Linked DNA regions of Homo sapiens. The protein of the gene in region 3 interacts with the protein of the main gene of each other region in a pairwise test. Each region holds a gene or a part of one and is shown on either strand. Other genes may lie near its edges.

What was found.
Region 1: the proteins of CD40 (region 3) and SLC7A1 interact in binary tests that used the Homo sapiens proteins (3 or more experiments, as listed by UniProt).
Region 2: the proteins of CD40 (region 3) and CYB561A3 interact in binary tests that used the Homo sapiens proteins (3 or more experiments, as listed by UniProt).
Region 4: the proteins of CD40 (region 3) and MAL interact in binary tests that used the Homo sapiens proteins (3 or more experiments, as listed by UniProt).

The regions. Positions count from the first base shown.
Region 1 is NC_000013.11:29,525,614-29,533,188, forward strand, and holds part of SLC7A1 (high affinity cationic amino acid transporter 1), read right to left. Parts: intron 7,370-7,575; coding exon 7,211-7,369; intron 5,100-7,210; coding exon 4,925-5,099; intron 1-4,924. UniProt on the Homo sapiens protein: High-affinity, low capacity permease involved in the transport of the cationic amino acids (arginine, lysine and ornithine) in non-hepatic tissues.
Region 2 is NC_000011.10:61,353,536-61,361,110, reverse strand, and holds part of CYB561A3 (lysosomal membrane ascorbate-dependent ferrireductase CYB561A3), read left to right. Parts: exon of another isoform or gene 1-1,685; intron 1,686-3,282; 5' UTR 3,283-3,378; intron 3,379-3,739; exon of another isoform or gene 3,740-3,872; coding exon of another isoform or gene 3,873-3,908; exon of another isoform or gene 3,909-4,382; coding exon of another isoform or gene 4,383-4,397; coding exon 4,398-4,581; intron 4,582-7,118; coding exon 7,119-7,327; intron 7,328-7,548; exon of another isoform or gene 7,549-7,575. UniProt on the Homo sapiens protein: Transmembrane reductase that uses ascorbate as an electron donor in the cytoplasm and transfers electrons across membranes to reduce iron cations Fe(3+) into Fe(2+) in the lumen of the late endosome and lysosome.
Region 3 is NC_000020.11:46,119,564-46,127,138, reverse strand, and holds part of CD40 (tumor necrosis factor receptor superfamily member 5 isoform 1 precursor), read right to left. Parts: intron 5,320-7,575; coding exon 5,241-5,319; intron 4,907-5,240; coding exon 4,781-4,906; intron 4,530-4,780; coding exon 4,383-4,529; intron 4,014-4,382; coding exon 3,920-4,013; intron 500-3,919; coding exon 438-499; coding exon of another isoform or gene 398-437; exon of another isoform or gene 1-397.
Region 4 is NC_000002.12:95,050,479-95,056,946, reverse strand, and holds the end of MAL (myelin and lymphocyte protein), read right to left. Parts: intron 3,567-6,468; coding exon 3,492-3,566; 3' UTR 2,955-3,491; downstream 1-2,954. UniProt on the Homo sapiens protein: May be involved in vesicular trafficking from the Golgi apparatus to the cell membrane. Plays a role in the maintenance of the myelin sheath, and in axon-glia and glia-glia interactions.

The DNA.
Region 1 (7,575 bases), on a different chromosome or scaffold from region 3:
GATCATCACAGCTCTCAGTTACAGAAACTGCCATGAAGACGCTGGAAGTACATGCATGAGAAAGCTCATGTAGATGTGGGGTTTACTGTGGTCCCATAAACAGTAACGAGAGGAAACCCCCAGAAATGTACAAGTGATGGACGCAGGAAAAACTGTGGCCAAACAAAATTTTAGTTTGTTGTGTTAGAGTATGACTAAAACTAGCAACCCAAGTTCAAAACCAAGCATCCCAGGACAGACAAGTCAGCAGGGCCGCAGGACAGCAAAGGGCTGGAGTGGAGCTGTGCCCAACTCATCCAAATCCCCTCGCCTCTCAGGCCAGAGGCCCCGCCGGCCACCCACTCCCACCCTGGCAAACGGCTTCTGTTACTCAGTGGCCTATGCTGAAGACAAAGCAGGTGACAACCAAATGGCTCAAGAGGGGGAGGATGAGGCCAAGGGAGGAGGGGAACTCAAGAGTCAAAATGGCTTCTGTGGGCCCCACTTTGGTGCCCTGTGGCGGCCAGGGTGACAGACGGGCAGTGAAAAGCCCCCAGATCCCCACTCAGCTCCTATGACATCAAGAGCTACCAACATGGCCTTGCGTTAAAATAAATGCATGCCCACTATGGGAGGCCGAGGCGGGAGAATCACCTGAGGCCATAAGTTAGGGACCAGCTTGGGCAACATAGTGAGACCCCATTAGTACAAAAAAAAAATTTTTTTCTGATTAGCTGGGTGTGGTGGCATATGACTATAGTCCCAGCTACTTGGGAAACTGAGGCAAGAGGATTGCTCGAGCCCAGGAGTTTGAGGCTGCTTTGAGCCATGATTGTGCCACTGCACCCCAGCCTGCGCAACTGCACCCCAGCCTGTGCAACACAGCAAAATCCTGTCTCTAAAATAATTTTTAAAAATTAAAAAATAAATAAATAAATGAATGCTATCATGGATAGATGAGCTTTAGGCAACCATGAGGCAGAGGCACCTAGAAAGGTCCTGAAACCTCCATTTCAGGGCAAGTGGAAAGTGCAGGGAACTGCATACATGATTAAATCCCAGAAAGAGATGAACTCACAGAAGGGGACTAAGAAGGGCTGGAATGTGTCTTCCTCACGCAGACAGGTAAAGCACACACAACAATAAAAGCATGGAGAGAAGGAAGCAAGGGCGATGGGTGAGCGCAAAGCGAGGAGGCAAAACAAAAGGCATCCTCCCCGGCTCCTCAGGACAGTTGCAGAAGAGACTGGATAATCCTCCAGGTTACAGAATGGGGGTGAAGGCACGTGCTGTGCTGCGCCAACTCCAGAGCTGTGTGCAACCGTGAGCATCCGTAAACCTCCCTGCTGACTGTGACCCTGCCACACCTGCTCCTCGTACTGCGCCGCTACACCTGACCTCAGGAGGACCCACAGCCGACTTCAGGAGGACCCGGGTGCCGGGACCCTGGGCAACCATAACAATGAACAAGGGCCTGATTAAAAAAAAAAAAAAAAAATCTGCAGGGCATGCTAGTAAGCAAGAATGCAAGGTGCAGAACAATATATACGGAGTGCCGCGTTTTGTGTAAGAAAACAGAAATAAAATATACATATTTACATTTGCTTGTGCTTACACAGGGAGAAACTGGAAGCTTACACACACACACACAATTAGAAAGTTTACCTGTGGGGGTGGGAGATGAGGTGGATGAAGAAAGGAACGCATTGTAAATCTTTTTTAAAGCGTTATGAACCACGTAGTATTTTACCAACTCAAAAAGTTAAATTCCACCTTTAAGAAAAGATTGGGTGTTACTGATGCCAGTGGCAGAGTATCAACACAAAATAACCACAGAATCCATTCTACAGAGGCGCAAACCAAAACGTAGAGATATTTACTAAGGGTCTCTTTCTATGTAATCAATAATTAACCTTTTACATGCGTGTGGCAGTTGTGTTCACTCATCATCTGGCAACTCACATGTGAAAGAGAGGGGCTGCCAAGAGCCCTCACCCAGCAAATGTCGCCCCGAGACAAAGTGAGCTTGAGTCCTGGTCTCAGCTCAGCGCTCCCTGCCCTGCAGCCTTTGACCAGCCCTTCTGTGTTCCACTCAGCTGGTCGCTCAGAAGCAGCAAAGACAATGCCTGGCATAGAAAGGGGTCAGGCCCGAGGGTCTCCCACTGCATCAGTGGTGAACTTCCTGCAGCAGGGCTCCGCCACCCTCACACCAGCCACCCTGACATCAACTGTTAGTTGTGCTCAAAAGCCACACTCCCCTGTTCTTCTACGTGGTAATGGAAACTTTAATTATTTCAGCTGGACATATGAGCCTTAAGAATCAGGACTGTGTGTTTCCCAGAGTCACTAGCTGCAAGGAGTAGCCATCTGGCTAAGTTCTGATGGAGGATGTTTGAGCAGAAGTGGTGTCTGCATCTGCTGAGAAATGTCCAGGAGACGAAGTGGGGAGGGAGGGGACCCTCTGCTGTTCCCTTCTCCATCCCGCTGACTGGAGCTGGAGAAGCCGCCTTCAGCCCTGGGGCGCCTGGCCTGGATTCCTGGCTGGGTGAAGCGACAAGCTGGACTGACCAACCCCAGAGGTTAACCAAAGAAAACCAAAGCCTTATCTTGTTGAAGCCAATGTTATTTTGGGGCTTCCATCCTAACTGGCAGACACCATCCAACAAAACCTTCTCAACAGGCTTCCATGCAGGGTTGATGCTTCACTATTGCTATGTCCACAGAACACTGGATGGGAATGCCAGCGGCAGCCTGAGTCAAAGGCACGAAGAGCCATCCAGACTGCAGGGTAACTAACACTCCTCTTCACAGACCAACAGACAGACCGACCTAGTTCCTGGGGGCCTTCCCAGGCGGCTAGGAGACAGCATCCTAAAATCACAAACCCATGTGGTCTCACGGCCTCCCATGCAAGCGGAAGCTCCTGCATGTTATATGGATTGGTTGGGCAGTGCCCTACTATTTCAGAGGAACCAGCAATGTCATGCAAGACTACATGGCTGTTGTCAGAAACACAAAGCTACGGCTGGAAAAAAAAAAGAAAGAAAGTTGCTTAGATATTTTAACAACATAATAGAGCATGCCAAGGAGGCTCCAGTCCTGCAGAACTCCACCTCCTAACATGGCCGATCCCCTGCCGTCCCTGTGGTCAGGGGGCTGGGCCCTGGCAGTGAGGCCGTCAGATGTAGCTAAGGGGGCCCCACCTATGATCAGGGATTGGGGCAACAAATGCTGCTTTGTCTGGGGGCCGGTACAGCTAGCTCATCATTACTAGGGTACCAGCATGAGGATGACCAGTGAAAGTAAATACCATTGGCTGGCACAATCTCTTCATAAAAATAATAAAATTAAATCTCGATTGGCAACCAGTTAACAAGAGGTGCCCTATATATTTCATTCCTGACCTATAACTAGCAACCGGTCGAATATGCTCTGAGTTTTCAAAGGCTACACGTTACTTCAACACATATTTGGAATTGGCTTCACTCCACCCTAGATTAATGGACACCCATAAATTTGGCATAAATATGACTCTGAAATGCTCGGGATGACATATTCAAAGGCCTCAGTTCTCCATAACAGAGTTTAGGAAAGCAGTTTTATTAGAACTGCTAACCACAAAATATTAGTGTTAGTGAAGTTTCGTGCACCGAATGCCATAGTTTCCTGTTTCCATTCAAGTAGTCACACATCAATGCCTGCCCACTGGTAACAATACTGGGCGACATGGCTGGCACCTGGCCCTGAACCAGTGACCAACTGGGCATACGTGACTGCTAAGATTCCCAATGTGAGATAGTGCTTCTCAGCCTCCCTTGCAGCTCTATGTGGCCCCCAGTGGACTCTTGCCAATGGAATGTCTGTGTGTCTTCTGGTCTGTCCTGAACAGACCTGAGCACTCTCCTCTACGCTCTCTTTTCCCTTCTGGAAGAGCTGGGTCATGCTCGTGCCTACAGCCAGCTCTGACCAGGCAGATGAGGACAATGTCCTGGGGGAAGATGGAGCAAGACAGAAGATGTCTAGGTCCACAGAGGCCTGTGGCAAAGCTGGCCAGCCAACGCGGACTGCTCACTTCAGGACTGGAAACATCTCTTCTTTAAAGCCACACTCCATTGTGGCAGTTGGAGGGGGTCTCTTTATCATAGCAGTTTCAACCTTCAGTCTTAATGAAGAATCACACACAAAATCCAAGTCCCCATTGTCCATCCTGAGACCTAAAGAATTACATGGAGATCTGACAACAAAGATAAAAAAGATATGACTGTTTGGCTTTTTTTTCCTAGGTTATCTGAGCTTTCAATGAGGGCTGGGCGAGAGACCTGAGATGGCACAGGGTGGAGCTGTCACCTCCAGTTCCGGATGTCTGTGTCAGAGACATGAGGGTGATGGGGCCACTGTCGCCAGGGCTTGAGCAGCACAAGTCAAATGTCGGCGAAAGACTATTGTGCTCACATTCTGACACTTCAGTCATTCTGAAAACCTTCAAAAATAGTTTCACCTATTTCTCTTCCCTCTACATTATTAATCTAATAGGAAGGTATTTAAAGGTGAAGTGAGGTCACCACGGCACTGCAGAGAAAAATCTTTTCTGAACACAAAATTCCAAAGTTGGCCATCAAACAGAATCTGGGGAAAGAGGGATCATTTAATGAGTCTGACAAGAATCCTGAATGATACACAATTTGGAATTAGGGTGATGATTTTCTTTTCCTCAGTCTTTCTTGTCATACAATAGTCTTTCCATTTCAGGGGAATAAACCTTCACACAAACTTGATACATACAAAATACCCTCAGCTACTTCACTGCAAAAACACAAAACAATTAACAAAATATCCTCAAATAATGTTTTCTTAAAAGCACATGCCATCCTAGCCAGTTATATCCCCCATACAATCTATGTCATTAAATGTCAACTAAGAAAAATGGTCAGAAGCAGCAACTCACTTGTTCAAACAGAGACGGCCTGATGTGTTCCCAAAATCCTCCTCCGTGAGCTGCCAGTTTTTAACCGATCCTTTCACAAATCCTGACACCATTATGAAGCCCAGGACCAGGACGTTAATACAAGTGAATATTTTGTTGACCATGGCCGACTCTTTCACACCAAGAGTTAAAAGTCCTGAAAAAGTGCATAGACACAAAACTTTGTCTGAGTGTTAACCACAAACTGGGAAGGTCCTTCCTGGATGGGGATAAGAAGGCGACTGAAAAAGAATCCAAGTGCATCGAGCCTCTGCAGACCTCTGTGAGCCTCTGGGAATGGGGTGGATTAATTATCTTTCTGGGGGCGGGGATCAGGGGTTTAAATCACCAAGGTTGTGGGTGCTTCCCAGGCCCTCCTAGGTGACCTCCAGATACCCTTGGGAACTGAGAAGCCCACCCAAGGGGCACCCGAGAACTGCAGAGATCTGGAGCATGAGCCCCTCTCATAGGGAGGGGAAAGCCTGGACCCGCACACCAAGCCGCTCCCTCTCACTAAAAGGATGCGTTGCTGGGAAACAACCTCTAGGAACAATTCCAGGAAGAAAGACTTTGCATAGTTTCCTGGGAGAATGGACATTTTTCAGAAGAGGAAATTATTCTGGTTGACTTTGGGATGTTAGTGATATTAACAATAACAACTAGCTATGGTTCTGGAACCACTAACACACATGGTTCTTCGTTGGACTCAGTGCATATAAAATAACATCTGAGCTAGGCTAGCTCTAGCTTGCAAACTCACGTTTTTTTTTTAAAGAAAACTATAAGTAATAAAGATGCCCAGGAACCTCTGACAGCACTGCCTTTGAGGCACATGCCCCAGCACCACCTTAGGGTGAAGAGGTCATTCGGGTACTTCCATAGCTGAACTCTCTGCTGGGCAAGAAAAGTGGCACAGAAGGGGTTGGTACCACTCGAACACAGCCAGGATTTGAGACCACTGCTCTGCCATGGACGCCTCTCATCGTTTTAAAATAAAAATTGGCTAGGTGCGGTCGCTCACGCCTGTAATCCCAATACTTTGGGAAGCAGGCAGATCTTTTGAGGTCAGGAGTTCCAGACCAGCCTGGCCAATATGGCAAAACCTTACCTCTACTAAAAATATAAAAGATTAACTGGGTGTGGTGGTGCGTGTCTGTAATCGCAGCTACTGGGGAGGCTGAGGTGTGAGAATCGCTTGAACCCAGGAGGCAGAGGTTGCAGTGAGCCAAGATCGCGCAACTGCACTCCAGCCTGGGTGACAGAACAAGACTCTGTCTCAAATATAAAATAAAATAAAATAAAATAAAAACTGCTGTACTTTTGAGATTGAATTATAAAGTACAGATGTTAGAAGAGAATTGTGTAATTAATCACAGGGAGAACACCTCAACAAACAACAATATATTGTTTCTTTAGTGTCCCTCCCTCTCAGGTTTATTAAAATGAAATCTCACTAGTGCAGACTTACTTTCTGATGCATGTTTCTGCCAGCTGGACCAGAAATACTGCTGAGACCAGCCTGAGTGAAGTTATTTCAATTATGTGGTGTGTAAAATAAGGCATGTCATTTTTAAAACTCATCCAAGATTTTCTAACCCCAAATGAGAATTTATCTGCATTTCAGCTTCATGTTTATGGAGCCCCACAGAGCAAAACTCGCGCTGCACTGGCCAAGACACGCACAAATGTCACTAGCAAGAAGTTGCCATCAGCTGTGTTCAGGCAGTCTCTGGGATTTTTCAAATTCTGTAACCACAACTCTGTCATGAAACTTATTTACTGAAAGGGTGTTTTGATGGTTGTTAGGTGTAAAAACCATCCAAGTCATCTTCAGACGCCCCAGGCACACATTAGTGTTCCAGACGGAGCTCATTCCTCCACATTTTCCTGGCTGATGAATGACAGTTTTGCTTTCCAAATGGTCATCCACTGAGTCAAAAGAACTTTTATTCCCAGGACACTCACACAAAAAGCCTGCAGTGCAGACAAAATCTTATTCCACAAACAGCTAGGCTAAACACCTAAGATTCTCTTTTAATGAAATGGCACACAATTCAACAGCTATGAAGCAGGCCGGCCCTATCTGAATCTATAAGAAGCAATGAAGACAGGAACAAATAAAGATGCCTGCATGCAGTACAAAAACAAAACAAAAAGAAATGGGGGTTATGGTTAAAGAGATAAGTAAAGAAAGGAACTTAACAGGAGCCTCTCACCAAACCTTTGCCCATCACTCTGACCCGATCTCTTTTTAAGTGTGGGCTTTACCTGTCAAGATGAGAATTATGATCACTGCGAATATGTCGGGGTTTTCAGCCAGCACGCCGGGGGCGTTCAGAGTCATGTGTGTCCGTGAGAACTCCCCGATGGGTCTGCCTATCAGCTCGTCGAAGGTGGCGCTCCAGGCCCTCGCTACGCTTGAAGTACCTGCCACAAAGCACACACAACAGAGGAGATGTGAGGACAACTGTTAGCCAGGTATTTGTAGTGGAGCTCCATGTTGATAACATCATTGCAGGAGTCACCGACGGTGCACTGGAATCTGGCAGCAGCAGCCAGACCACAGTGTATGCTGAGCCAGAAGTGACGGTCGACTAGTGCTAAGTGCGAGAAGGCTTCTAGGGCCTACAGAG
Region 2 (7,575 bases), on a different chromosome or scaffold from region 3:
CCAGTCCATCGGGGAGGGAGAGCAACAAACTGATTTTCTACCCCTTCATTTATTTGTAGTTCTAAATTATAAAAGTAACACTGCAAGAGTTTGGAGTAGAGCCTTTTTCTTTTTCTTTCTTTTTTTTTTTTCTGAGACAGAGTCTCACTCTGTCGCCCAGGCTGGAATGCAGTGGCACGATCTCGGCTCACTGCAACCTCCGCCTCCCGGGTTCAAGCGATTCCCCTGCCTCAGCCTCCCAAGTAGCTGGGATTACAGGCGCCCGCTACCGCGCCCGGCTAATTTTTGTATTTTTAGTAGAGACGGGGTTTCTCCATGTTGGTCAGGCTGGTCTCGAACTCCTGACCTCATGTGATCCGCCCGCCTCGGCTTCCCAAAGTGCTGGGATTACAGGCGTGAGCTACCGCGCCCAGCCTGCGTAGAGCCTTTTTCTAAGACTAAGGGCTGGATGGGAACTAGCATTTCTTACCCCTGGATGTGACCTGTTTTAGCTCAGCCGGGAGAATCCTTTTTCGCAAGAAGTTAATAATATCTTGTGACGTGAAAATTATGTGAAACTCAGACTTCAGTGTCCATAAATAAATATTACTGGAACACAGCCGTGGTGCTCATTTGTTAAGATGTTTATGTGGCTGCTCTTGCATGGGCAGAGTTGATGACATAGTTGTGACAGACCATGTGCTCTACAAAGCCTAGAATATTTACTACCTGGACCTTTACAGAAGAGCTTGCTGACTGCTCCCTTAGAATGGGGCTCTGCAAAGTGAGCACACCCTGGGATCACAGCCCAGCCTGCCCTTAGAACAAATGAGAGGATATTTTCAAGCATTTGCATTGCAGTTTTCACGGTTTTTTTGTTTTGTTTTGTTTTTGAGACAGAGTCTAGCTCTGTCGCCCAGGCTAGAGTGCAGTGGTGCGATCTCGGCTCACTTCAGCCTTCTCCTGGGCTCAAGCCATCCTCCCACCTCAGCCTCCTGAGTAGCTGAGACTACAGGTGGATGCCATCACGCCCAGCTAATTTTTTTTTTTTTTTAAGAGATGAGGGCTCACTGTTGCTCAGGCTGGTCTGGAACTCCTGGGTATTTATTTATAGACAGAGTCTATCTCTGTTGCACAGGCTGCAGTGCAGTGGCGTGATCTTGGCTCACTGCAACCTCTGCCTCCTGGGTTCAAGCAATTCTCGTGCCTCAGCTTCCCGAGTACCTTGGACTACAAGCGCATGCCACCGTGCCTGGCTAATTTTTGTATTTTTAGTAGAGACGGGATTTTGCCATGTTGGCCAGGCTGGTCTCGAACCCCTGACTTCAGGTAACCCACCTGCCTGGGCCTCCCAAAGTGCTGGGATTACAGGCATGAATCACTGTGCTGGTCCTTCACTGCATTCTTCCTTTTCTCCTGCTTTGCTCTATTTCAGGAAGTAGGAGGGCTTATCTGTGTATTGTGAGCAGGGCAATATAACTTTGCAGCTCTCTGTCAGGAAAGTGTGCCCAGGGTCTATTCTAAGTCTGTCACAGAGCAGTAAACCAGGACCTTTTCTAGGGTGTGGCTACAGATCCTTTCGGACTGCATTTACTTTTTCCTCTTACAAAGAAAAAAAAAACAGTTGTGGAAGTAGATATTGTCAGATGAGTGAGCCTGCTGATCAAGATCTCTTACATTTCACTGAGGGATGGAGAGTGTTTTAGGTGAATATCTGGTGATCTGAAACGTCCTCTGCCCTTGGAGGAATTGAGGAGGCAGTTCTGAGGCTGGGTAGCAAATCTCTGAGTTAAGTAGTTGAGTCACAAATCTTCTAGGAGGCTGGTGGCATGATTTTCTCCTGCCAGCTTCATGGAAGCTTTTTCCCTGCAGCCCTTGGACCTTCTTTTCTTTTTTTTTTTTTTTTTTGAGACAGAGTCTCACTCTGTCCCCCAGGCTGGAGAGCAGTGGCGCGATCTCGGCTCACTGCAACGTCCACCTCCAGGGTTCAAGCAATTCTCCTGCCTCAGCCTCCCTGGTAGCTGGAATTACAGGCGTGCGCCACCACACCCAGCACATTTTTGCATTTTCAGTAGAGACGTGGTTTCACCATGTTGGCCAGGCTGGTCTCAAACTCCTGACCTCAGGTGATCCATCCGCGTCGGCCTCCCAAAGTGCTGGGATTACAGGCTTGAGCCACCGAGCCTGGCTGGACCTTCCTTTCTCAGAGATTACTGCCAACTTGGGTCACCTTGTGCATCTTTACCTAAGTAGGTGGACCCCTAGCATGGGGAGAGCTGGCATGGCATGGCTGAGGGCCACTGAGAGGCCTGGGCAGGCACAAGGAACATGAGCTGCATGTTAGTAGTTAGGATGAAGTGCATGACAGCAATGACTAAGAATTCTATGTATATATATATATTTTTAGATGGAGTCTCGCTCAGTCGCCAGGCTGGAGTGCAGTGGCGTGATCGCAGCTCACTGCAACCTCCACCTCCCGGGTTCAAGCGATTTTCCTGCCTCAGCCTACCGAGTAGCTAGCTGGGACTAAAGGCGCGCGCCACCATGCCCAGCTAATTTTTTATTTTTAGTAGAGATGGGGGCGGGGGTTCACCATATTGGCCAGGATGGTCTCGATCTCTTGACCTTATGATCTGCCCGCCTCGGCCTCCCAAAGTGCTAGGATTACAGGTGTGAGCCACCTCACCCAGCCTTTTTTTTTTTTTTTTTTTGAGATGAAGTTTCGCTCTCATTGCTCAGGGTGGAGTGCAATGGCACAATCTTGGCTCATTGCAACCTCTGCCTCCCTGGTTCAAGCAATTCTCCTGCCTCAGCCTCCTGAGTAGCTGGGATTGATTACAGGCGCCCACCACCACTCCTGGCTAATTTTGTATTTTTAGTAGAGACCGGGGTTTCACCATGTTGATCAGTCTGGTCTCGAACTCCTGACCTCAGGTGATCCACCTGCCTCAGCCTCCCAAAGTGCAGGATTACAGGCATAAGCCATCGCGCCCAGCGAAGAATTCTAATACTTGACTTCTACAGTGTGCTACATTCATTTTCTCACTTGATCTGACAACCTGTGGTCAAGGAAGCAGCGTGGGCCTTGAAGCTAAACACACAGGATTTGGAACTCCCCACCCACTCTCACTGGGTCCTCATGCTAATTACTTATCTCTCTCAGCCTTAGTTTCCTCACGGAATAATATGCCTCCCAGGGTTAAGAGGAGTAAATGGGATCTTGTGTGTAAGGCTCTGGTGCTCGTAGCTGGTGTTCGTTATTCTTACTGTTCAAGTATTCTTACTGCCACGCCTTTCTTGCAGGTGAGTCCTGCAAATGTTAAGTGATTTGCTCAAGGTGCCCATTTCGCAGGAATTGGAGCCCAGGCCAGTTCTCTGAGCCTATCATTAGGGCTAAAGGTGAGCAGTCAAATGTTTTACCTCCGTGGGGGCTATTGGCTATTAGCTGCTTCCGAGTGAGGGACCTCAATGCAGGAAGCCACACTGTTGCCTTCTTGGTGTGAGTCCGTGGGACAGGGTGACTGCCTTGATGCCTGGGCCCGTGCTGCCTACATATTAGCTGAAAGCAGGGCCAGTCCTGTGGCTTTGCCCACTCACCTAGCGTTTAAGAGCAACTGCTCAGGGCTTTAAGCATTTGCCATGCCTGAAACCAGAGTTGGTTTCTGGGTTTATCAAGGACTTGTGGAAATCTCAAAATAAATCTCTTGCTTTCTGGACCATGAGTTGTTGCTTCCTCTTTTTTTCTCTGGACTTTCCCCAGAGGAAGAGAAAGCAGAAGTCTCAGGGCTGGAGACAGCTGAGGGGCATCAGCTGGTTCAAGGTGTGGAGTGTGGGCAGTGGAGTGAAGGCCTGGTTACCTCTCCAGTGAAGATTAGCCCCATAGAGCTTACTCTATGGGGAAGAACTTTTCTGACTCCTTCCTGTCTAGGGTAATAGTGGGGTGTTTGCTCTTTTCAGACTGTAATTTTTGCCTTCTTATCTTAGAACCCAAGGCCTGGGTGTTTGCGTAATTTAGCCTGGATTTTGATTCCTGTCCCTTTTTTCCTGGGGGGTATGGGGTGGTAATTCTTTACCTTCTGGTCCTGTGAGGGGAGAGGAATCCCAGGACTCTGGGTCTTGGGCCTTGGCATCTGGCCTTCGCCAGGGCCAGCCATAGCCTTGAGTTTGCTGCTCTGTCTGGGCACTGCCAGGTGCTGGGGTGGGGCCTCAGTCATTGTGACTGAAGATCAGGCCCACCCAGGCATTGAGGCCTCGGGCGGGGGGTGGTGCCCAGGCTGATGCAGGGGAACTGAAGCAAAAAGATTCCATCCCACAGGCCAAGAGCTAAATCAGTGTTACCTCCTTTAGCCAGAGAACTGGGTGCATCTGAGCCAGTGGAGATTTGTGACTTCTCCTTCTTCTAGGAGTGCGTGATCAGAATGGTGTCTGGACGGTTCTACTTGTCCTGCCTGCTGCTGGGGTCCCTGGGCTCTATGTGCATCCTCTTCACTATCTACTGGATGCAGTACTGGCGTGGTGGCTTTGCCTGGAATGGCAGCATCTACATGTTCAACTGGCACCCAGTGCTTATGGTTGCTGGCATGGTGGTATTCTATGGAGGTGGTGAGTAAGAGGTCAGGAAGGGAGGCGGGATAGGGCTCAGGCTGGACAAAGCTGCACTTTCCCTCTCCAAGGCTGGCCTTTGTAAATGTTGGGCTTGGGGCTATGGGGGTAGGGTGGGTTGGGCTGTCTCTGGGCCTAGCTGTCATTTGGGGGAGGAAGGGGTTAAGATGGGGGGCATCTCAGAAGGGTGGCTTCACAAATACTCTAGGGCAGGAGTTGGCAAACTTTCTATAGAGGGTCAGATAAATATTTCAGTTTTGCAAGACAGAATCTGTGTTGCAGTTACTCAGCTCTGCCACTGTATTGTGAGAGCAGCCATAGACAACACATACACACAAGTGTGGATCACGTGTTCCAATAAAGCTTTATTTGCAAACATAGGTAGCGAGCTGGATTTGGCCTTTGAGCTGTAGTGTTTTTTTTTTTTTTTTTTTTCTCTAGACGGAGTCTTGCTGTGTCGCCCAGGCTGGAGTGCAGTGGCGTGATATCGGCTCACTGCAAGCTCCACCTCCCAGGTTTGCGCCATTCTCCTGCCTCAGCCTCCCGAGTAGCTGGGACTACAGGCGCCTGCCACCGTGACCGGCTAATTTTTTTTTGTATTTTTAGTAGAGACAGCGTTTCACCGTGTTAGCCAGGATGGTCTTGATCTCCTGACCTTGTGATCTGCCCACCTCAGCCTCCTGAAGTGCTGGGATTACAGGCTTGAGCCATCATGCCCGACCTGAGCTGTAGTTTTTAACCAGCTCTAGAGAACAGGAGATTGAAGCCTCTCATGGTTTAGTCAGGCCACCGAATGAGGGACTTGCTTGCTCTTCCGGGATCCATCTTTTTTTTTTTTTTCTTTTTTTGAGATGGAGTTTTGCTCTTGTTGCCCAGGCTGGAGTGCAATGGCGTGATCTTGGCTCACTGCAACCTCCGCCTCCTGGGTTCAGGCCATTCTCCTGCCTCAGCCTCCCAAGTACCTGAGATTATAGGTGCCCGCCATCATGCCCAGCTAATTTTTATATTTTTTAGTAGAGATGGGGTTTCACCATGTTGGTCAGGCTGGCCTCGAACTCCTGACCTCAGGTGATCCACCCGCCTCTGCCTCCCAAAGTGCTGGGATTACAGGTGTGAGCCACTGCGCCCAACCTGGGATCCATCTTTGTAATCTTTGTCCCATGCTTTCAAATCTGTGCCTTGGGGCCCTGGTGAGCCTCATTTTCCCCATTTGTAAAATGGCAATACGATGCCATTGATGATAGCAGCTTACCATGTGCAGTTCACATATATCATCCCATTTTGTTCTTACAAGTTTGTGAGGTGGGCTCTGTTATATCCCTTTTACAGATGAGGAAATTGAGAGTTAGACAGGAGAGGCCAGGCCAGGCGTGGTGGCTCACGCCTGTAATCCCAGCACTTTGGGAGACTGAGGTGGGCGGATCATGAGGTCAGGGGATCGAGACCATCCTCGCTAACACAGTGAAACCCCGTCTCTACTAAAAATACAAAAAATTAGCCGGGTATGGTGGCAGGCACCTGTAGTCCCAGCTACTTGGGAGGCTGAGGCAGGAGAATGGCGTGAACCCGGGAGGCGGAGCTTGCAGTGAGCTGAGATTGCGCCGCTGCACTCCAGCCTGGATGATAGAACGAGACTCTGTCTCAAAAAAAAAAAAAAAAAAAAAGAAAGGAGAGGCCAAACAGCTAAGAGGCAGAGCCTGGATTTGGACCTATGTTGCCTGACCTTAGTACCTGTGTTGACAGCCAGCCTCACTTGTGACAATTCAGTTTGATGAAACAATGACTGTCATGATGCTTTTTAGCCTAGAAACTGCAAACAAGCTGAATTTATTATTGTGAAAATAGAATGAGAGGTCCAAGAAACCTGCTTCCCCCCTCCACTTTTTTTTTAGGAGACAGGTTTCCCTCTTTTTCAGGCTAGAGTGCAGTGGGATGATCATAGCTTGCTGCAGCCTTGAACTCTTAGGCTCAAGTGATCCTCCCACCTCAGTCCCCCAAGTAGCTGAGAGAACAGGCATGTGCCACCATGCCCGGATAATATTTTTTATTTTTATTTTTTGTGGACACAGGATCTTGCTATGTTGCCCAGGCTGATCTTGAACTTCTGGCCTCCCAAAGTGCTGACATGAGTCACCGTGCCCAGCCCTCCTCCCTTTTTAATTGGAATCTGTTTATTTATTTATTTCTCTCTGTGGCCCAGGCTAGATTGCAGTGGCATGATCATAGCTCACTGTAACCTCAAACTCCTGGCCTCAAGCAGTCCTCCCACCTTGGCCTCCCAAAAAGTGCTGGAATTACAGGCATGAGCCACCTTGCCTGACCACTCCTCCCTTTTTAACTGGCCCTTCTCTCCTCCCTTCATGGCTGTTATCCCACAAATCATGGGAGGGTAGAAGATGCCGAGGAGTTGATACCAGTGCCCTAGCATTTCCTGTTCCCTTGCTGGGAAGCTGTGTAGGATCCTATCAGGGTTATTCCCTGATGTCTGGGTGAGCTCGAGGGGAGAGGCTGAGCCCTGGCACTACTCTCTCCTGCAGCGTCACTGGTGTACCGCCTGCCCCAGTCGTGGGTGGGGCCCAAACTGCCCTGGAAACTCCTCCATGCAGCGCTGCACCTGATGGCCTTCGTCCTCACTGTTGTGGGGCTGGTTGCTGTCTTTACGTTTCACAACCATGGAAGGACTGCCAACCTCTACTCCCTTCACAGCTGGCTGGGCATCACCACTGTCTTCCTCTTCGCCTGCCAGGTGGGTTCTCTCTGTTCTCCTCCTCGAGGTTCCCAGAGCCATGAGCTCTGGTTGGGGGTTCACTTGCATGAGCACCAAATATTCCTCTGCTCACTGCTTGGAGAGGGACTTGCAGATTGTTATCTTGTAGAACTGACAGTTTATTCAAGGGCTGTGGGAGGTCAGTGGCCTGAACTTACCCTGTTCCTTTTATCCCTCCCATTGCCCGTCTCTCGTCCCAGAGCCCTCTCTGCTAACTTTGTCATGGC
Region 3 (7,575 bases):
TATTATTATACTTTAAGCTTTAGGGTACATGTGCATAATGTGCAGGTTTGTTACATATGTATACATGTACCATGTTGGTGTGCTGCACCCATTAACTGGTCATTTAGCGTTAGGTAAAGAGAATGTAATTTTCTTACCCCTGACCTTTTTCACTGATTTACATTATCTGATCTTTACTGTAGGCCAACCTTCTCACTCTAAAATCAAAACCTACTAAGGAAGTGCTGTTATCATCCCATTTTACAGATGAAGAAACTGAGGCTAAGAGAGGGGAAGTGATTTGCCCAGACTCCCAAGATAAGTGGCAGAGCTGTGATACCACACCCCCAAACTGCCTCCCCTCCCCTTTTTCCCATCCAGTGTTCCTGTGTGCCTCATCTCCCCCTTCAGTTCCCACCTTCCTAGGCTTTCTCCAGGGCCCATTGTCCAGGACTCACCACAGACAACATCAGTCTTGTTTGTGCCTGCCTGTTGCACAACCAGGTCTTTGGTCTCACAGCTATGCACAGACACGTGCACAAATGCACACACACAGAGAAAGAAAGAGATATTAAGTTTCCCCAAGCATAAGATTTCCAACTCTAGAGTGAGTCAGTCAACAATCAACAAATCCAGGTTCACTGAGCACACAACACGTGCAACGTCCTATGCTGGTTATTATAGGAACGACACAGACTCTTCTTACAGAACTTAAAAGTGCAGAGAAAAGATTCTTGCACATCTTGAAGGAGTAATAAATAGGGGAGTCTATAATGAGTGCCAAGCTTTGTGATCTAGGTAGGCTAAAGTGAGATGGGAATGGTTCAGAGGAGACAGAATCCACCAAGGCTGGAATGGAGAGATGATGAGTTCAGCTTAAGATAGGGTTACTCAACGTCAGCACCAGTGACACTTGGGCTGGATCATTATTTACTGGGGGTGTGGGGGTGGGGGTGGGCTGTCCTATGCATTGCAGATGTTCAGCAGCATCCCTGGCCTCTATCCGCCAGATCCCTGTAGCATCCCCCTCTCCGTTTGTGACGAATGAAATGTGTCCAGACATTGGCAAACGTTCCACAGGGAGCAAAACTGCCCCCTGTTGAGAACCTCTGGTTTAAGGTTCTTCCAGAAAGACTTCCCTGAGGACATATGACCTGAGTGGGCCCTAAAGGATGTAAAATTTGGATCAGCAGTGCAGTCCCGCTAAGTGGGACGATGTGATGTGGGGAAATAAGGCAGGTGGCATGCAGGATGGTGTTAGGAAACTATGGAAAATTGTGTCTTTAGAACCAGATCACTGCCAAGTGTGAAGTTTTCAACTGGATTCAGCTGGTCAGTCTCATCAGCATCCAACCAGGCGACTTCACTAGTGAGAAGATTCAGCTGCCCAGAGAGCTCAGAGGAGGAGAAATTACAGAAGAGTGGCCAGCCAGGAGACACAGCAAACATATAGATATGAGATGATGAAGACCTGGTCCAGGTGGCCCCAGGAGGAGTGGGGCGGAATGGACACAGGACATTGCAAAGGAAAAATCATCTAAGGTGGGAGAAAGAGAGAGAAGCTTTGAAGAAACCATGTACTTTAGTCTTTTTTTTTTTTTTTTTTTTTTTTTGAGACAGAGTCTTGCTCTTTCGCCAGACTGGCTGGAATGCAGTGGCGCGATCTCAGCTCACTGCAACCTCCACCTCCCAGGTTCAAGCAATTCTCCTGCCTCCGCCTCCTGAGTAGCTGGGACTACAGATGTGCGCCACCACGCCCAGCTAATTTTTGTATTTTTAGTAGAGACAGGGTTTTACCATATTAGCCAGGATGGTCTCGATCTCTTGACCTCATGATCTGCCCTCCTCGGCCTCCCAAAGTGCTGCAATTACAGGTGTGAGCCACCACGCCCGGCCTACTTTAGTCTTACATGAGTAGAGCATTCAGGAATTTACAATACACTTTACATGTTTTTAGCTCAAGCCTTGTGAAATGAAGGTCATTCCCATTTTTCAGATGAGGAGACTGAGGCTCAGTGAGGGTCACACACTTACTGAGCTGTAATCAGATACGTAAGCCAATGCACTGATTCCATTAATACTATACCACTGGTGGCCGGGCACGGTGGCTCACGCCTGTAATCCCAGCACTTTGGGAGGCCAAGGCAGACGGATCACGAGGTCAGGAGATCAAGACCATCCTGGCTAACACGGTGAAACGCCGTCTCTACTAAAAATACAAAAAAATTAGCCGGGTGTGGTGGCGGGCGCCTATAGTCCCAGCTACTCAGGAGGCTGAGGCAGGAGAATGGCGTGAACCTGGGAGGCAGAGCTTGCAGTGAGCCGAGATTGCGCCACTGCACTCCAGCCTGGGCGACAGAGTGAGACTCTGTCTCAAAAAAAAAAAAAAAAAAAAAAAAAAAAAAAAACTATACCAGTGGTGCCTCCAGTTATCAGTCAACATTTATCAGTAAAAATTTAAGCACCTACCATGCGTCAGGTACTGTTCCAGGTATAGGGGATGTATCAATGGAAGAAAAAAAAAAGGCCAAGTTTCTACATTTAAGGAATTTTCAATCTATTAGGGAAAGGCAGACAGTTAACAAATAAAATGTATACTCCTATTTGTGCAAAAGTAAAAGGAGGGAAATTTTGTGTGTGTTTGTGTGTGTGTGTGTGTGTGTTGGTTTGTTTATATGTAGAATCTCTGGAAGGATATGCAAGGAACAATGGCTCCCTCCAGAAAGAACTGGGAGCCTAAGGGGCAGGGATGGGAGAAAGACATCACTTTGGCTCTTTTGTGCCTTCTGTCCCATGTGCCTATCTTGCCCATTTTTAAAAATCAAATGCAAAAAGTTAATGGGGCAGGTGTTTGTTTTTTGAGACAGAATGTCGCTCTGTTGCCCAGGCTGGAGTGCAGTGGCGCTATCTTGGCTCACTGCAAACTCCACCTTCCGGGTTCAAGTGATTCTCCTGCCTCAGCCTCCCGAGGAGCTGGGATTACAGGCGCCCACCACCACACCCAGCTAATTTTTTGGTATTTTTAGTAGAGATGGGTTTTTACCATGTTGTGCTGGCTGGTCTTGAACTCCTGACCTCAAGTGATCCACCCGCCTTGGCATCCAAAGTGCTGAGATTACAGGCAAGAGCCACCGCGCCTGGCCTGGGGCCCATGTTTAAGGTATTCCAGGCAGATGAGTTTGATGGAAGAGAATGAACAGTGTGTTCAGAGGATTGCAAGTAGCATGAAGCTATGCGATGCAGGAAAGAGAGCAGGAAATGCAACAGGAAGGTTGGGTGCCATGCTAAGGAGTCTTAGTTCCAACAGAGAGACAGGAAGCATCTCAAATAGGAGAGTGTCATGATTTGAAAGAAACTGTCGAACGCTCATGTTGGCAAGAGGATGGAGACAGAACCAGCAGGAGGGGAGAGACAGAGGCAGGGAGGCCAGGAGGCAGAAAAGGCATCACCCAGACCACAGTGATGAGGCCCAAACTAAAGTGACAACAGTGGAGACAGTAAGTTCCCAAAACACGTAGACAGCCAGTGGCAGGACCTGGTGTGGGTTTGGAGTTGGAGGTAAGAGAGGGAGGCCCTCAGGGTGAGCACCCAGAGCCCAGAAAGCCCTAGAAAGCCAGGTAAGGTGAAAGCAAGACGAGGAAAACTGAGGAGAAGCAGGAGGGGCAGAAGGAAAGCTAAAATAAGTGTCCCAATACCCCCAAGATAGGAGGCTCTCATGAAGCGAGAGATCAACAGTGTCTATTACCTCAAAGAGACAGCAGGCAAAAAAAATGTGGAAATGTGCCTGTCTGGTTGGCCATGAGGCCACTCTGCAGATGCTTCACAAGTACATGAGTGTGTGTGGACCTCTGGGAGCAGGGACAGGACAGGTGGCTGGAGAGAATGGAGGCAGCTCCATGCCACTCTTAGAGCAGGAAACACAAGGGATGAGTGCTTATACCTTGTCCAAGGGTGACATTTTTCGAAAGCAGATGACACATTGGAGAAGAAGCCGACTGGGCAGGGCTCGCAGATGGTATCAGAAACCCCTGTAGCTGGGAGTGGGTGGGGAGGGGGACATTAACCATCACAGTGGACCACCTGTCCGGCTCACAAGGCAGCCAGTGGCCAGGCAGGACGGGAAGAGCTCCTGCCTTGAGCACTCTTCCCCCGATGTGGTACTGCCCCCGACAGCTGCAGTCCCCAGGAGGACTTCTCCCATTGCCCTTCAAAGGCAGATCCCCATGGCAGAAGGCAGAATGAACAAGGTCCCGTCTGCAGCTCACTCCAGTGGGGATACCGACATAGGTTGGAGCCTCTGCTTCCTCTGCCTCTGGGGCTAAGTGCCCACTGCCCAGCCCCTCACCTTGGGCCCTAAGCTCCTCTGTCCCCCTCCAAAACTGATTCCCAGATGAGCCACTTACCAATCTGCTTGACCCCAAAGCCGGGCGAGCATGAGCGGTGCAGGACACAGCTCTCACAGGCCTCACTCGTACAGTGCCAGCCTTCTTCACAGGTGCAGATGGTGTCTGTTTCTGAGGTGCCCTTCTGCTGGACCCGAAGCCCTAGGTCTGAGAAGAGAAGGGCAGGAAGGATGGGAACCCCCTGCTGGGCCATGCTCTGAGCCTCACTCCCCACATTGCCTGCTCTTTCTTCCTCAGACCCTCTTCCAAGTAGAGATGGCAATCAAATCATTTAATGATCAGTACAGCCCGGACTCCAACCAATCAGAGCAGACCCTGGCTACATAAAATTAGAATGGCTGCATTGTCGGGAATATCAGCCCGGTTCCCAAGCGTCCCTTTCCCAACAGCGCACGCACTGGGGTCGCAGTATTTGTGCTGGTGGCAGTGTGTCTCTCTGTTCCAGGTGTCTAGGAATTCGCTTTCACCGCAAGGAAGGCATTCCGTTTCAGTGAACTCTGTGCAGTCACTCACCAGTTTCTGTCCTGGAAAACATCAGGAAATGAGGGAGGGCTCTGGCCAACTCCATGAGTCAGACACTAACCACACAATGATCAGGCCAGGCTTTAGGGTAGGGGATTCAAAGATGAAAGTCTTGGATCCTTCATAATCAGGCGAGGAAGATGGAGAAGCTGGGATCCCTAGTTCAGGGTAGACAGAGTTTTACCTGGTAGAGAGGGAACCAGAACATTCTGACAGTGAAGCAGGGCTGGGAAATGGGTCGTTTCAGATTTGAGTTTACAGTTAACATATGGGGTCTGCGTCTGCCACCAAAGCAAAGGGGGACTCCATGATGGGGCTAGAGGGTTGGCATCTCACCTGGCTGGCACAAAGAACAGCACTGACTGTTTATTAGGTACTGTTTTTCTCTGCATGCAGTGGGTGGTTCTGGATGGACCTAAAAACAGAATTGTGCAATTTGAAGGGATCTTGAAATCTCCGTTGCAACTTCTTCAGCAGAAAGGTAAAAGTCATCCAGGACAGAGGCTGCAAACTGAAGTGCAAGTCAAAACAGAAAGTGGAACCTGCATGATATTTGGCATGTTTGTTTTCAAGTAAATTGTCAACTGAGCTGATTATAATCGCACCCAGAGAATCATTCTGGTATTTTTACAAAGCAATGGTACTGTAAACTCACAATATTCTCTGAACAGAACAGAATTCCTTGGGGCTTGATGCCTGAGTCATTCCTCTTCCCAAAGATCCCATAGGATATGGGGACTCCAGCAGCTCCCCTGGAGTCCTGAAGCTGGCTGACTTCAGCTGGTCCCAGTGCTGTTTGGGGCTATGTTTAGCACTTGGCCTCTTCCTCCTATTCTTCTGCTTCCCTTCCTGCTCCTTTCCAAAGCCCATCATGTTTTCTTCCTCCAACTCCTCATCATCTGTTCATCCAGCCCTTCCCTCATAAAATGCTAGAATGTAAAGCTGGAAGGGTAAACTCACACTTTCATTTTACAGATAGTTGAGACTGAGCACCAAAGAGGAGGGTCACTTGCCCAGAGTCTCACAGTGACAGAGTCCAAATGAGAACTCAGGTCTCAATGCTCCTCTCTCCATCAACTTGTGTTTCATCTTCACCATTTTACTACATCCAGGTACCACCCATGCTATTAATTACTTATTGTTAATTTCAATACTTTTATTTTATTTTTTGAGACAGAGTCTCGCTCCATCGCCCAGGCTGGAGTGCAGTGGCATCATCTCAGCCCACTGCAACCTCTATCTCCTGGGTTCAAGCAATTCTCCAGCCTCAGCCTCCTGAGTAGCTGGGATTACAGGTGTGTACCACTATGCCCGGCTAATTTATGTATTTTTAGTAGAGACAGGGTTTCACCATGTTGGCCAGGCTGATCTAAAACTCCTGACCTCAAGTGATCTGACTGCCTTGGCCTCCCAAAGTGCTGGGATTACAGGCACAAGCCACCGTGCCTGGCCGGTACATTTACTTTAAATGTAAACCTCACATCATTGCCAAGAGACAAGAACCAGTATCACTTCTCATAAATAAAAGGTAACCCTAAAAATAAATTCTGGGGAAACAAAACAAGGTTATTAAAACCCAGCTGGTTGTTTGCTTGTTGAAGGCCCTCCCAGGCCTGCTCTTGATTTTTGTTTTAAAAGAAGGATTAGCAAGCCTTTGAGAGGCATTAACTCTATTCTAGCTCCAGAGACTTCCTCTTTGAAAAAATGAGAAGGATTTTTAAAAGAACTGTAAAGTAAGTGTATGTTTAATTCTATGTCCATGTGCTCCTTAAAACTGTCCCACAGTTTGGGAACAGCCAGTGAAAAGAACACAAGTTTGAGAGTCAGACAGCTTTAGACTCCAGTCCTGACTTTGTAACACTTACTAGTTATTTTGCTTCTCTTAGCCTCAGTTTCTCTATCTCTAAAATGGGAGTAATAATGCCTGCCCTGCAGGTTGGATTACGAAGATAAGAAAGAATACATGTATATGGCCTAGCACAGTGTCAGGAACATAGTAGGTGCTCATTAAATGGCAATTTTAATCATCATTCATTTGTTTCTGCTTGCATGATATATGGCAAGCAGCCCGGCTACCTGGCTGGCTGTCCAGAATCCTACCTAACTGGTGGCTCTCATTCAACCTGGGTATCTCAGCAAATTACTTACAGAAATGTGTCTTACCCAAAATGGGAAAGGAAGTAGAAAAGGCTACTGCCCCCCACCAGCTCATTGCAAGACACCATCCTGTGAACGTGGAGCTCCCACACTCCCAAAGATAGGAAAGTCCTTGATACCATCTTCAAACACATGAGAAATAAAACGCTCCCCTAAAAGTCTGTCAATCTCCAGTTCTCACTCCCCATAGTTCTGGTCCTTCTGCCACAAAACAGCTCAGGACCAGAGCTTGGAGACTCTCACTATCTGAGAGGCAGGCTCGGGAATCATGCAGATGTAGATTCACAACCAGGTTCTTCCATTAGCTAGCTATGAGACCTTTGGCAAGACAATCCCCCTTTCTGAGCCTCAATTTGCCCATCTGTATAATGGGGGAGTTGTGAGAAATCAGACAAAGAAAACAGGCAGTGTTTGGCTCAGAGCCTGACACACAAGAAGCCCTCAATAGATAGCTTCTGACATTGTTGTCACAGCCCAGCCTCTACCTGGAGCCAAAGTTGGGAGTTATGAGGGC
Region 4 (6,468 bases), on a different chromosome or scaffold from region 3:
GCGCTGGGCCTGCTCACTTATGCGGCCGTGTTTATTGAGCACTGGCCCCGTGTCCCTCCTGGCGCCTGACCGGGCACTGCACGTTCCTGGGTCCATGGACAGCACACAAGCCACAGGGACAATCAGGGGAGGGGGAAGCCCTTAGCAGTGACCCACGAGGCCCAGTTGGTCCAAACCCCTCTGTTCTCTTCTCTGCTGGGCCCACAACTTGGTGGGGACAAAAGTGGGGTGACTGACTATGGTCTGGCCTATTCTGCAAGCTTTGGCTCTGAGTCACAGCATACACAATGGCCTCTTCCTAATCCTTTCTCAGGCTTGTGGATAGATTTAGCTCCTTATTCTGTGAGCTTAAAAATACCCAGTTCCTCACCTTTGCAAAGTATCAGCTGGACTTTGGCTTTGGCTCTATGGGGGCTGCAAAGTGGACCCAGCAGCTACCTGAGCTGGCGTGGCTGTGGCTGCAGCTCTGAGCAGCCAGCTCTTCTCCAGGAGACGCTGAGTGCAGGGCCTGGCCGTGGCCGTGGGCTGCTATAGGCCCTGCTGGTGGACTGGGGCTATCCTAAGTGCCTGGCTTCATCACTCTCTGAAGGCTCCTGCCTACCAGCATCCTGTCAACCACTAAATCTCACTGCCACTTCCTGGGAGACGGGAGGACGGCCCGCGTGAGGACAGGTCTGGGTGCCTTGAGGTCATATCAAGCCCAGGGCTTCAGGGCCAGAGGGAGGCGGCCCTCAGTCCAACTGCACTTCTCACCACCTGCACCAGCCTCAGTTTTCTCACCTGTAGGATGACGTGGCCACTGGGAGAGTGACAGAAAGCTATATATGGAAAGTGCTTACACAGTGCCTGGCACAAGGCAAGAGCCCCCAAAATGGCAGGGAAGATGGTTACACAAGAGTGAATTTGGGTCTTCTGGGCAGTTGCGTTTGATCTAAGTGAGGGCCACAAGCAGGCAGTCTGTGAGTGCCTTGGGTGGCACCAGGCTCTGCCTTAGAGGAGGTCCCCTCCTGTGTAAGACAGAGGCAGAGAGGTGAGGGGTGCCAGCAAGAAGCAGCTTTGGGGGCTAGAAACCATCCCCTCAATGGTCCCAGCACACAGAAGGTGCTCAGCCGGTGCCCCTCTCTGCAGCCTGCTTCACCCAGCAGGCTTCTCTAATGTCCCCATTCCCAACCCTTCCTACCCAGGCATCGTGGGCTCCCAGGGGAGCAGCACCCATGGCTGGCAGGGCTGCCGCCAGCACTCATGTGTACCTGCAAGCACAAAACAGCCAGATAGGGACAGAGCTGGGAACAGAGATGCAGGAGCAAAGAAACCCGACAGGGGCTGGGGTGTGAGGGTGGGGGGTGAGGAGGAAGAGCAAGACCGGAAGGGGGCATTTTTTGAGGCTGGAAATGAAACCTTGCCCATCCAATTTACATCCAATGTGAATAGGATGCAAGTCAAATGTGAAATGAAACTGCAAATTTAAAATATGCCCAGGGCTAGAAGGAATAAGAAAGTGGCGTCAGAGAACCATCTGCAAAGCCTTTGGCTAAATTAAAAATAGAGAAAGAGTATATGAAAGATTTTTTTAAAAAGAGAATGATTAAAATGTCAAAACATTGAGAAGCCCTTGGGAAACTAAGCCTTCCATTTCTCCTCCTCCTTCTCCCCCTCCTTCTTCTTCTTCTTTTTGATGAGGGTAAAAAGTGAGCTTCATTAACATGTTGATGGCTTCCTGTGGACAGTTTTGTTGAAAAATGAGACTTCTCTCAATCAACACTGGATGGAAATTTTGTTAAACATGTAACAAACTTCCTATTACTTCTCATTAGGTAAAGCCCCAGTCAAACCTTTTGCTCATGATATACTATGAAATGTTGGCTGTTTGACGTGTACTTACTAAGAGTGGCTGGTTTCTGGTACCAGTTATCCTGGATTAACAAAGGACCTCCTGAATAGACCAATTTAGTTGTAGACTCTCCAAGTTGAAGAGCAGTAAAATGTCAACTAAACTCACCACTTGAGGCTTGAATTTTATTTTTATTTTATTTTATCATTTTATTTTAGAGACAGGGTCTTGCTCTGCTGCCCAGGCTGGAGTGCAGTAACACCATCACAGCTCACTGCAACCTCAAACTCCTGGGCTCAAGTGATGCTCCCACCTCAACCTCCTGAGTAGCTGGGACCACAGGTACATGACACCGTTACAGCCTGAAGCTTGAATCTTTGTCCCCATGGCTGCCAGCAAGAGGTTGCAGATGCTCTACCACACACCTCCATGGCAGGAAGCTCACGGGTCTTCAAGCACCTCTTCCAGCGTCCCATCTCTGGAATGGCACTAACTTCTCGGAGCCATGGGATAAGGGAGCGTTTCATAACAGAGCTGGGCTTTCCAGATTCCTAACTCAGTGCCTCCTTCCTAATCATCCCATCTCCTTTCAACCCAGACATCTCAGACTTGAAACATGGCATTCACCCCTTGTCACCGTACTTCCTTTCACTCTGTAATTTCCTCTCCTTTCTCTCCTATGGAGTGGCCCGAGGAAATTCTAAAATAATGTATTATCCACACAATGGGAACAAAGCAGACTGCCCAGGAACACGCTGATGAGCTTCACAATGAGTGAATGAAAACTTGTGCACCGTGTTTTCTTTTGGTGGAAGGAGGTTCTAGTGGGGCACAGACTGTTGTGTCTTGTAGGAAGGAGAAGCTGCCCCTGGCTGGCACTTGGCCAGTTTCCAGAGAGAGGGGAAGCCATCTGGGCAGGTAGCTGGGAGGGTGGGCTCCCCAGCACCGGGCTCTGAGAGTGCAGTGGCCTGGCACACACAGTGTCCGTCGTCTGAACTGCCACCTGATGCTGTCTCTTGAGATTCAGGTTAAGTCAAAGGATTCCTCAGAAAGAAAGCTGAATTGATGGTATTCTTGATGCTGAGGAATTCAACCCAAACCCAAAAAACACCCAACAAATGTATTGAACATTAAGACATTTTATAAAGTATTTCACAGGGTTATCGTCTTCCACCATGGACCTCTGGAAAGATCTGTTGGGTGAGTTTTAGTCCCCATGACATGCAGAACATCCATGAAGACTTAAAACATGGCACAAGATGGGGCGCTCGGGAGAGCTTGTGGACAATACCAACAGGTAGTTCTCGAGAGCTGCTCCAGGGGTCAGCAGAGGATCTTTCTTTCCTTCTCAGGTCACGGTCGCCACTTCCCACCCCCGAACAAGAAGGTCCCCTTTCACAAACAGGAGGTGACCCTAGCAGACAGCACAGCAGTTGGAGGTTAGACACAGCAAGCTCCCAACCCGGACGCGAAGGCACACGGGAGAGTAAACACAGCACCCACGAGCAACAGGGCAGGGCTTTTTTTTTTGGGCAGTGGGGGGGTGGTTGTTTTCTTTTTTCCACCATCAAGGGCATTTCTGTTTTCTAAAAAGTTATGCCGGAAAGTGGGGCGGCCAGTTAACACCATCTGGGTTTTCAGCTCAAGTTCTACTGCGGCTTTATGAAGACTTCCATCTGATTAAAGAGAACACCGCATGGACCACGTAGAGCAGAGTGGCTATGTAGGAGAACACCTGGAACCAAGAGAAATGGCCGTTAATGGGTTTGTGTAGGGAGGGCGAGGCACAGCGTCTGCACTGCATCCAGCCCCACGTGGCGTAGGGGGGGCCAGACCCAGAGAGCTTGGGCTGTCATTGCTTCTCACCCTCACATGGACGCCCTCCCTGCTGAGCCCAGGTGTGCACCAAATCCTCTCAGTACAGAGCTCCATGTGACCTAACAGTCTCCTGGATCTGGTGTGGAAGGTAAGACTCTCCACTATCACCCAGCATCACATTCGTCTCAGCTTGAGGTTTCGGCTGACTTGAGATGGAGTCCTCAAAGACCCCTCCAATGAAAGCATCTCAGGCAGGTAACTCTCCAGGGACAACTTCCTCCCCCAACACCAGTGAGACCAGCGCCCTCCAGCTGTGGTCCTGGTAGCTCGGTTGAGAGATTGTAAATACCTGGGTTTGCTGGCCCTGGTGAAAGTCTCCATGCTGCCTGGACATTCTCACCCTATCATTATTTTGTTTTAGGATTCTTAATATCACAGGTGTGGCTGAGAGAGCCAGACTTCATAGGAAGTGAGGGACAGAGAAGGGGAGAAGGGATTTTGAGCTTTTGTCTAAAGGAGGGGCCTTACTGTTGGGACCATCCAGTCAGCCACTGTGGCCCTTGGAGCGATGGCCCTGCTTTCTGGGGACTTGCTGTGTCCTCCTGGGCACTGTCTGCTCCCATCACCCTACTCCCTGAAGGCCTGCCTGCTGCCAAGTCCAATCTCTGCACCTGGTTTTGTGACCTTGGTTAGGGGTCAAGAGTTTCCAGCTCAGGCACGACGTCCATTTAGGGCGGCTACGCCTCTGTGACTCCTGAAAATGCTCATCAATCCCAGCCCTCAGGGTGCCTGCTCTCCTGCCCCTACACCTGGCCAAGCCCTTTCCCTCATTGCCTGGAGGCGGTGAGTAAGCTGAATTATTGAATAACACATTTAAGAGAACGTATCTGGGCAGGAGCAGTCAGACACCAGTGGGCAGCCCTCCATAAAAGGTGGGCATTCCAGACCAATGAAAGCCTTTGGCAGAAGCACCTTGGAAGTCCCCAGCAGGAAGAGCAGTGGAGACTCATTTTCCAAGTGGGGTCAAGAAATGGCCCACTGGGAACACGTAGAGCTGGGCACGAATGGGCAAATTTTGGCTTCAGAAAGCCCTCTCCCTAAACTGTAGCCATCACTGCCCACCATTGTATAATCTAGAAACCTCCAGATTTCTCCAGAAATTTCCATCTCGCCCCAGGCGACTTCCACCCATCCCTGGGGTCCCTTTGGCAAAGCAGCTCCGCCACCCACAAAGGAGAGAGGGAGGAGCTCAGCTTGGAACAGACCCTAATTAGTAGCCACACAGTGGATGTGAGGCAGGCTGGCTGCTTCCAAAACCAGGCTGTGTGAGAGAGGGTGTGAGGTGCCTCCCTGTACCCAAGTATCCCCTGGACTGGGCATGCTGTGGTTGGGCGGGTCTGGGATTGAATCCTGAGTAACGAACTTCTTTCTCTCTCACAGACGGATGCAGTTGATACCGTGAGTTGAAAGGTGTGACTTTACATCGAACGCCGTGCAGATTTCCCCTTGGTGGTTTTATCTGGGCACATCTGCCAGCTGAGAACACTCTGGTTCTCAATTCTAACGCTCCTGTCTGCGTGAACATATTCGTGTCTATCCAACTCAACTAAAAAAAAATGGGAACATGGTCAGTCATGGGATGGATAAATAGATGTTGGTCTATTCCTACAAGGGAATACTATACAGTAATGAGAACAAACAACCCACATCTACACCCAGCCACTTGGGTGAGTCTCACAAACACAAGGGTGAGAGAAAGAAGCCACACATGAGTACCCACTGTATAATTCCACTTATATGAAGTTCAAAGGCAGGCAAAACTGAACATGGTGCTAGAAATCAGAATTGGGTGGTGGTGGGGGTGCACAGTGATGGGGACAGGACTTGAGGGGATTTCTGGGAGTTGTTTATCAGGCCCTAATTCTTAGTCCAGATGCCAACTACACTGGGGAGTTTGCTCTATGAGAATTCATCAGACTGTGCGCTGGTAACTGGCCCTAATTCTTAGTCCAGACACCATCCACACAGGGAGTTCGCTGTATGAAATCCATCAAGCTGTGGGCTTGTAACTGCACACCTCTCTGGCTGTGTGCTGCCTTTGATAAAAGGTAAAAGAGGAAAGTCAGAAGGCAGTAGAGCCTAGTGGTTCTCAACTAGAGACCTGCCCAGCGGGAAGGGGTGTTCATTCCCCTAGCTGGGTTTTTCCATCAAGTGCTGACCCACTAACCACATCCCATCTACATTTCGCAACCTTTGTTCACAACAATTTTATGGAAATTATTGTCAGACACTTTGTTGATGTTTGTTAAAAGAGAAGGCTTGGCTGGGATGGGGGAGGTATGAGGCAGTCTTGGGAGAGGGAGATGAGATGGAATTGTGTGAAGAAGATGGAGGGTGGCTCACCAGCCTCCCCAGGAAGGAAGATCAGTCAAGATGCCCCCTGGCTGTGCTGCTGCTTGGAAACCAGCCATGTTGGGAGATGGGCCAACACGGGAGATGTTTCCACACCGCGGGACCCCTGGGGGGATGCCAGGATCCTGAGGGGGCCCTTTTTAGGGGAGCGATTGTAGGCTGGGAGCTTGAGGGCAGTGTGTGGTTTCCCCAGGGCAGGGGACTGTGCAAGGGGACCAGCAAGTGAGGCTTTGAGGGATTTTCCCCTGGGGCCCTCCTTCTGGGAGTGGGAAGAGGCACTTCACCAACCCCATTTCTAAAGCCTATCTGTGGGTCTTCTCTCAGCCTCTGCCCTACACTTTCCAAAAAGAGGGGATGACACAGCTTTGGCTACTAGAGCTGGTATCTCAGGATCTGTCACCACATTC